2 linked regions of the Homo sapiens genome follow. The protein of the gene in region 1 interacts with the protein of each later gene in a pairwise test. Each region holds a gene or a part of one and is shown in the gene's direction. Other genes may lie near its edges.

What was found.
Region 2: the proteins of NOM1 (region 1) and NGDN interact in binary tests that used the Homo sapiens proteins (3 or more experiments, as listed by UniProt).

The regions. Positions count from the first base shown.
Region 1 is NC_000007.14:156,966,581-156,970,495, forward strand, and holds part of NOM1 (nucleolar MIF4G domain-containing protein 1), read left to right. Parts: intron 1-380; coding exon 381-512; intron 513-2,506; coding exon 2,507-2,616; intron 2,617-2,948; coding exon 2,949-3,123; 3' UTR 3,124-3,915. UniProt on the Homo sapiens protein: Plays a role in targeting PPP1CA to the nucleolus.
Region 2 is NC_000014.9:23,467,199-23,471,113, forward strand, and holds the start of NGDN (neuroguidin), read left to right. Parts: upstream 1-2,504; 5' UTR 2,505-2,517; coding exon 2,518-2,529; intron 2,530-2,843; coding exon 2,844-2,903; intron 2,904-3,707; coding exon 3,708-3,779; intron 3,780-3,915. UniProt on the Homo sapiens protein: Part of the small subunit (SSU) processome, first precursor of the small eukaryotic ribosomal subunit.

The DNA.
Region 1 (3,915 bases):
GGGAGTGTCAAGGGTCCACCATGTCCTCATGTCACCTGCTTCTGCCACAGATGCAGGCAGTGTGGCCAGGCCAGCAGGAGCACCTCGTCGGTTCACAGTGCACCAGTCTGTTCTGATGCCCCTTGCTGTGGCCTTTTCCTTAGAATGTTCTGTTAGTATCTGCTGATTTGGGGGGAAGAACTGCACCAGAAGGAGATTCTTGTGAAGCTGTTTGGGACTATGCTCTATAGGCAAGAACAGTGAGGCCACCACTAAAAGTCTTGATGTTTAGAATATTAAAAATAAGATAATAAGAAAATACCTTTAGGTTATGTTGTTAGTGATATATTATAGTAATTTGTGGCCGTTTGCCTTTTTTCTCCTTTTAACTATGATACTAGATGACTTTCCAGTTCAGCATATGGGACAAATTTCGGGACTTGGAAAACTTGCCAGCTACGAATTTCTCTAATTTGGTTCATCTGGTGGCCCACTTGTTGAAGACAAAATCGCTTTCCCTTTCCATCTTAAAGGTTCGTGTAACGTGTGAAAATATTGAAAGCAATGGAAATGGGAGTGTAATTGTTTAGTACCTGGTAAATCAGGTCCTGTTTTACCAGCGTATTTTCTTCGATTCTGATTCATCTGAAAAGTGCTTGCATTATCCTAGCCAGGACAGAAAACGGCCAGACTAACATGTGCTACAAATTGATCTGGTAAATGAAGGCACCGCTGCAGTTCTTTTGCTAATCTGAATGAATGTGTTTTGGAGCTTGAGGTTAATTTGCTGGTCCTAATTATAAAATCCTGAACTGGTCACTGTTAGTGAGGAGAAGGGCGGATGAAGTAGGGCCTGGTCTCCTTAGAGGTGAGGTGAGTTTGCTCACGTTGATGTAAGGTGTTTTAAAACTGTAGGCTTTCTCCTGCCCTGCTGTGTTTTGGGACTTTGCAGTGGACCATGAAACACAGACATCTTTTTTCTTCCCCCCCCAAGATGGGAGTTGCTCTGTCACCCAGGCTGGAGTGCAGTGGTGCAATCTCTGCAACCTCTGCCTCCGGGATTCAAGCGATTCTCCTGCCTCAGCCTCCCAAGTGGCTGGGATTACAGGCTCATGCCACCACGCCCAGCTAATTTTTGTATTTTTAATAGAGACGGGATTTCACCATGTTGGCCAAGCTGGTCTGGAACCCCTGACCTTGTGATCTGCCCTCCTCAGCCTCCCAAAGTGCTAATATTACAGGTGTGAGCCAGTGCGCCCAGCTGAAACCTAGACATCTTACCAGGTGGAGTTGGGGTTAGATGTGGGCCTGTAAGGCTTGGATGGTGGGACCAACAGACTCTGAATAGCCAAAAAAAAAAACTGGAGCGCCTGGGGGGCAAAGGGAAGTGAAAAGCAGAGATAGTTGAGGGGCGTTGACTGCAGTGGCCCAGACCCACAAGACAGCCGCAGCCACAGCTTCCCGTGTGTTTCTGTGTGTCGTGTGCAGTTCATCAGCATGCCGGCTCCAGTTCACCCTGCGTCCCTTGCTGTGTGGTGTCCAAGTTTGGCCACTGTACTGAAAATGAGGGCACCGAGCCTTACGCCAAATCCTGACAACTGGAATAACTTAGCTCATGGAGGAGGCGTTGCTCCCCCTCCGCTCCCCTGCCTTGCCTTTCGCTCGCCCAGGCATTGCGCTCATCCTGGAACAGCACAGATGCTACCACCGATGAGCGGGAGAGGCGTGGCAGGAGCACACCCTCAGGCGTAGAGCTTTAGAGATGCCCCCCGCCCTGCCCCTCCGGGCTGCTCTCATTCCGAGTTTCTCTGTGTTTCGACCATGCTTTTGTGGTCTCGCCGCGTCCTCGGGTCCGCAAGCGCCTGTGATGGTGTTTGGCTGCGCACCTCCCTGTGGGTAGCATTCCCGTCACCATGCGTTTAGTCCCCTCCTCTAGCTCGCTGACATTCAGCTAAGATTGCAGTGGGTCCACGTTGGCGCCCGTGAGTCTGTTCTGGGTAGCATCCTACTGTATACGTATGCCTCAGTTTATATACTTACTTATCCTACTGATCCGTGTTTATTTCTGATTTTTTGATAGTTTTCTAGGGCAGAGATATATATGGATTAGTCTTCTAGAAGTAAATTTTATATATATATATATATATATATATATATATATATATATATATATAGTTTTAATTAGGGGATGGGTACTTTTGGGAATGGAGGTAATTTATGGTTCAGTTCTAGATACTGAATTTCTGATTCATAAGGTGTATGACCCGGGAATTCCACTTACACTGCTGAGTTGTTCTCAACGGTGGCTGTGGCCGGCCACACCTCTGCCAGCAGTGTGTAGGAATTCCCAAGGCCCACATCCTTGCCAACAGGTGTTCATTTCTTAGCTCTGGAAATAGCTTCTTAAATCGGGTAGAGTGGGGGAAGGGGGGAGATTAATTTTTACTCTAATTAACTATATTACAAATCATTGAAAAAGTTGGCTAAATCAGTGTAACTTTATTTTTCTCCATGTCCTGACCATTAGGTAGTTGAATTCAGTGAATTGGACAAACCCAGAGTCCGTTTTTTACGAAAAGTATTAAGTATCCTATTAATGGAAACAGAAGTTGAAGACCTCAGTTTAATTTTCACAAGGTATGTGCCCCACCCTTTCCGACGAGACATGGAAGAGAAATGAAGAGATTGTTTTCACTTGTGTTGATTTACAAACACAAGGTTGTACTATACGTGTAGCTTAATCTTTTCGGTTTTATTTTTAAGCTGGTATGCATTAGATCTGGGGAATAGAAACTTGTCTGCTAGCAAACTAACAATGATTGTTAATAATAAAATATGTTAAGAAGTTCTTAATTGAGAATTTTATTTTTAAAAGAAACTGGTTATGTCTCACTATGCGAGATACCCAGGATTGAGATCTAGGAGAGGCCAGCTCAGCCCTGACATGTGTTTATACGATTCCTTTCCAGAGTATCTGACAACCCAAAGCTGGGGGTGTTACGTGAGGGTTTGAAGCTTTTCATCAGCCACTTCTTGCTAAAGAACGCACAGGCCCACAGAAGCGCCGACGAAGCCAACGTGCTGAGAGAGAAAGCTGACCTTGCAACGAAGTGTCTGCAAGGAAAAGCTTCCCTGAGAATGTAGTCAGGGAAGGAAGGAGGGCAGGTGGCCCTTTGACTGTAAAATGTCCTTGGTAAACCCAAAGGCTTATTCTGTTGCCTGCGTGTGAATGTTTGGTAGAGCTATATCATTGTCTGTTAATGTATTATATTTTGAGATTTTTTTTGATCTAAGGTTTTATTGTTTGTATTTCAAGCCATTTTCAAATAACTATCTTGGGGGTGAGAGGAGAAGGAGGGAGGGAAAAGGGGTCAGGCACACTGGACAGGGTTCTCTAAGCAGTGAGGCTGGTGTGTATGATTGTCTTAAAATTTTTTAATAGATATGGCCGAGCGTGATGGCTCACCCCTGTAATCCCAGCACTTTGTGAGGCCAAGGTGGGCGGATCACTTGAGGCCAGGAATTTGAAACCAGCCTGGGCAAAACCCTGTCTCTACTAAAAATATAAAAATTAGCCAGGCATGATGGCACATGCTGGTAATAGCAGCTACTGAGGTGGCTGAGGCACAAGAATTGCTTGGACCCTGGAGGTAGAGGCTGCAGTGAGCCAAGATTGTACCACTGTACTCCAGCCTGGGCTGGACAGTGAGACTTTTGACAGTGAGACTGTCAAAAAAAAAAAAAAAATTAATAGATAAAACAGGCCACTAGAGGGTGCAGTTATAAAGAAATTGATGAGGTTTTTACCTTTTTAAAATATTGGTTAGAAGTTCAAAAACCATCCCTTAAAGGTGATTGTTTTTTTGAGACAGAGTCTTGCTCTGTCACCCAGAGTGGAGTGCAGTGTCCTGTAATCTCAGCTCACTGCAACCTCTA
Region 2 (3,915 bases), on another chromosome or scaffold:
AGTTCTGTCAGATCATACTCTTTTTGTCCTATCACATTTCTACACGCTGTCCATTCTTCATCAAACCTAACCATAAAAATGGAATCTTCATTTCTGAAGGCTCCCGTGTCATGTAAAACTTTCAATAAATTCATCAAACTTTTTTCTTGTTAACTTCTTTTGTTATAGGAGTGTCTTCTATGACCCTTATGATGGGTGAGGAAAGGTATCACACTTTTCTGCCCCTATAGTTGACAAGTATTTTATTTTTTTAGAGATGGGGTCTCCCTCTTTCACCTTTTTTTTAGAGATAGGGTCTTGCTCCGTCACCCAGGCTGGAGTGCAGTGGCACGATCATGGCTCACTGCTGCCTTGACATGGGCTCAAGTGATTCTCCTGCCTCAGCCTCCAGAGTAGCTGGGACTACAGGTTCAAGTCACCGTTCCTGGTGGACAATTATTTTAATAATCAAGGCCGGGAGCAGTGGCTCATGCCTGTAATCCCAGCACTTTGGGAGGCCGAGGCAGGTGGATAGTGAGGTCAGGAGTTTGAGACCAGCCTGGCCAACCATGGTTTAGTAGAAACCCCGTCTCTACTAAAAATACAAAAAATGAGCTGGATATGGTGGCGGGTGCCTGTAATCCCAGCTACTCAGGAGGCTGAGGCAGGAGAATCGCTTGAACAGGGAGGCAGAGGTTGCAGTGAGCCAAGATCGCGGCACTGCACTCCAGCTTGGGCAACAGTATGAGACTCCGCTCAAAAAAAAAAAAAAAAAAAAAGGCCGGGCGCGGTGGCTTACGCCTGTAATCCCAGCACTTTGGGAGGCTGAGGCGGGTGGATCATGAGGTCAGGAGATCGAGACCATCCTAGCTAACATGGTGAAACCCTGTCTCTACTAAAAAAAAAAAAAAAAAAAAAAAAATCAGCCGGGCGTGGTGGCAAGTGCCTGTAGTCCCAGCTACTCGGGAGGGCGAGACAGGAGAATCGCTTGAACCCGGGAGGCGGAGGTTGCAGTGAGCCGAGATCGCGCCACTGCACTCCAGCTTGGGCAACAGAGCGAGACTCGGTCTCAAAAAAACCCAAAATATGGCAGTGCAATTTGTTTTCTCATTGCTATCATAAAGCATATGAACAAACTAAATTTCAAATTCCCCGAAAAGGAAAAGTTTATTGCTGATCTAATTAGACAGGTCCGAAAATTTATGTAGAAATAGAAACTTTTCATAATACAAATCTTGATAAAACATTACAAAAGCTACTGGATAATTGACTAAGTATGCTGCAACAGCATCCTGAGCTTCCACAGTGGGCCTGAAGCAGCAAATTAAATGTTAGAGGAGTGGGGACTGAACACCCTCCTGCCTTCTTGAATCCAGCAAGATCTAGATACCAGGATTTCCTTACCTCACCTGCCCAGATACAGGTGTTATTCTTAATTCCAAAAGACAGCTTCAAGTCGGTAAGATCTGATTTCTAGACCCAGCTCTGTTGGACGAGTTGTGAACAAAAAATTATACACTATCATTCACCCTTTCGGTGCTTTATTTCCTAAGGCATGGGATGGGAACAATGAGTATCCGTCCAACCTACTTCACCAGCTTGTGAAAAACCAGAGTGAGAGAACACATCTGAAAGCACTGGGTAATGATGAGGCAGGTTATACTGAAACATGCACTGCCAGAGTTTGAACCAAGTTCTGCTGAAGACCTGTGTGACCGCGGTAAGTCATGTAAATATGAACCGTTCCCCAATTTGTAAAACGTATTCTTTTCATGTCCCCAAACTGGTAGGAGCGAAGAGTGTCGGGGCGTTATTGGAGCCGTTTCTCAGCGCTCCACAGTGCACACCAAGAGGGCAGGTGTCCTCGCACTCGGTTTCTAAACTCTGGCTCTGGGCTTCTCTAGCCTCGCTCTCTTATTTACAGATGAAGAAGGCTCAGAGACCGAGTGACTTGTCCACGGTCACACAAGGAGTAGTGTTACAGAATCGATTCCAGGGCCACCGGGTCTGTAAGGCATTTGGCGCGGTGGCCGTTGGATGAGCAGCCAGCAATGGCGGCTCTGCAATGTCGACACCGCAAAGCCAAGCCAAGGCCCATCACCTAGCGGCCGGTTCACGCACTACAAGAAAAGTGCCGTGAAAAAAGACTCTGGGTGCTGCGGCAGACGGGAGCCAATACGCGCTAAGTTCGCTCTGCTAATTCCTTTTTTCTATTGGTCCTTCCAACTGTCAATCAATTATTTGACTGTCTCTTATTGGCTTGCCGTCAATCATTTTACTCAGTCTACCAATCACACGCTCTTTGCCAAGTGCTTTTTTTCGTCCTGACGACTCTTTCTGAGTCTGACGAATTTAGCCAGTTCCTTTATTCCATTGGCCAGATCAGACTCCTCCTCTCGTTTATCCTGTTGGGGGCGGAAGTGAGAAAGCCCTTATTCGTATTGGCTTAGATTTGCAAGCGGCAGTTGTCTATCAAATCTATCAAGTCGCCCTTAGCGCTCAGGAAGTACGACACCGGAAGGGGTGGGCTTTGCGAAGATGGCGGCGCTGGTGAGTTTGGTGTGGTTTCTTCCTCGCGTAGCTATTGTGGAGTTGTCCTTTGCCTTCAGCGGCTGGAGGCAAACTGTTGGTACCAGGGAAGGGTGGTGATGAAAGTTGCTTCAGGGAGGCGGCCTCCCTAGAGTTACCGTTCCTGTCCGGTAACCCAAGGGGCTGGCTTTAAGGCGAGTCTGTGAACCCGAGTGTGAAGGCCCCGAGTCTGGGTGTCTGACGGAGAGAGGGCAGTTTCCCACCCTAGACGTTCCACTTTCCTATAATCCTGAGGAAAGAATGACTTTTCTTTACGCCTCCTCTCCCTTCTGTAGGGGGTGCTGGAGTCCGACCTGCCAAGTGCCGTGACACTTCTGAAAAATCTCCAGGAGCAAGTGAGTAGTGTCGCCTCTGGAATAAATTAGTCACGGATTGGCTTTGAGTTTGTGTACTTCACCTCAAAACTTTGGTGATTGAGATACGTGAATGCTTCCAAAAACCTTAGAGTAAAATGATGTAATCAAAACCTTTTCACGCCAGAATTCTAAGTAATTGATTCTGCACCCAAGGGAATACAAGAAACTCCAAAAAGAAATTATATGAATAGTTTTCCTTTATTCATATAGCTAAGGAAACCAGTGCTTGGAATGGTAACATGACTTGCCCTTTGGGTGCCCAGGTAATACACACTTATATACAGATGCTTCTCGACTTAACGATGGAGGTTATGGCCTGATAAACCCATTGTAATTCGAAAACCTCATAAGTCGAAATTTAGGCTTGATGCCGCTGCCCAGCATCACGAGAAAAGGACGGTTTCTACCGAATGCATATTTCTTTTACACCCTCGTAAAGTGGAAATTAAGTCATAAGTCGGGGAGTTATGTAGTTCTATGCATTGTAAGTTCAACTAGTACAAACAAAATTACAGTGCTTCAGTCACTACTCTCTCAGTCCTTTTCTCCTCCCTGTGGTTCAGTAAAAGATGGTCTCTTCTTTAAGAAGTGGAAAGTTTTTTTTTTTTTAAACTTTTTGAAGAACCATCTCTCCTATGCTTTCCGAGAAGTGAGAAGATAGTACTATACTTTAGACAGTGTTTCAGATAATTTTTAGGTGGCATTGTTTAGCTTTTGCTCTTCACAGTTTGCAGACATAATTTGATATAATCTAATCACTTGTTTTATTTGGGCTAATTTCAGGTGATGGCTGTAACTGCACAAGTGAAATCACTGACACAAAAAGTTCAAGCTGGTGCCTATCCTACAGAAAAGGTAAGATGTACTCAAACAGTAAGCATCCCCTGACTTAATGTTCTCAGTAGTTCTTTCATTGTATGTTTATTGTGTCTTATATATCCTAAGTGCTCGAGCTTCAAACATAAATATGATCCAGTTTCTGTGCTGAAGT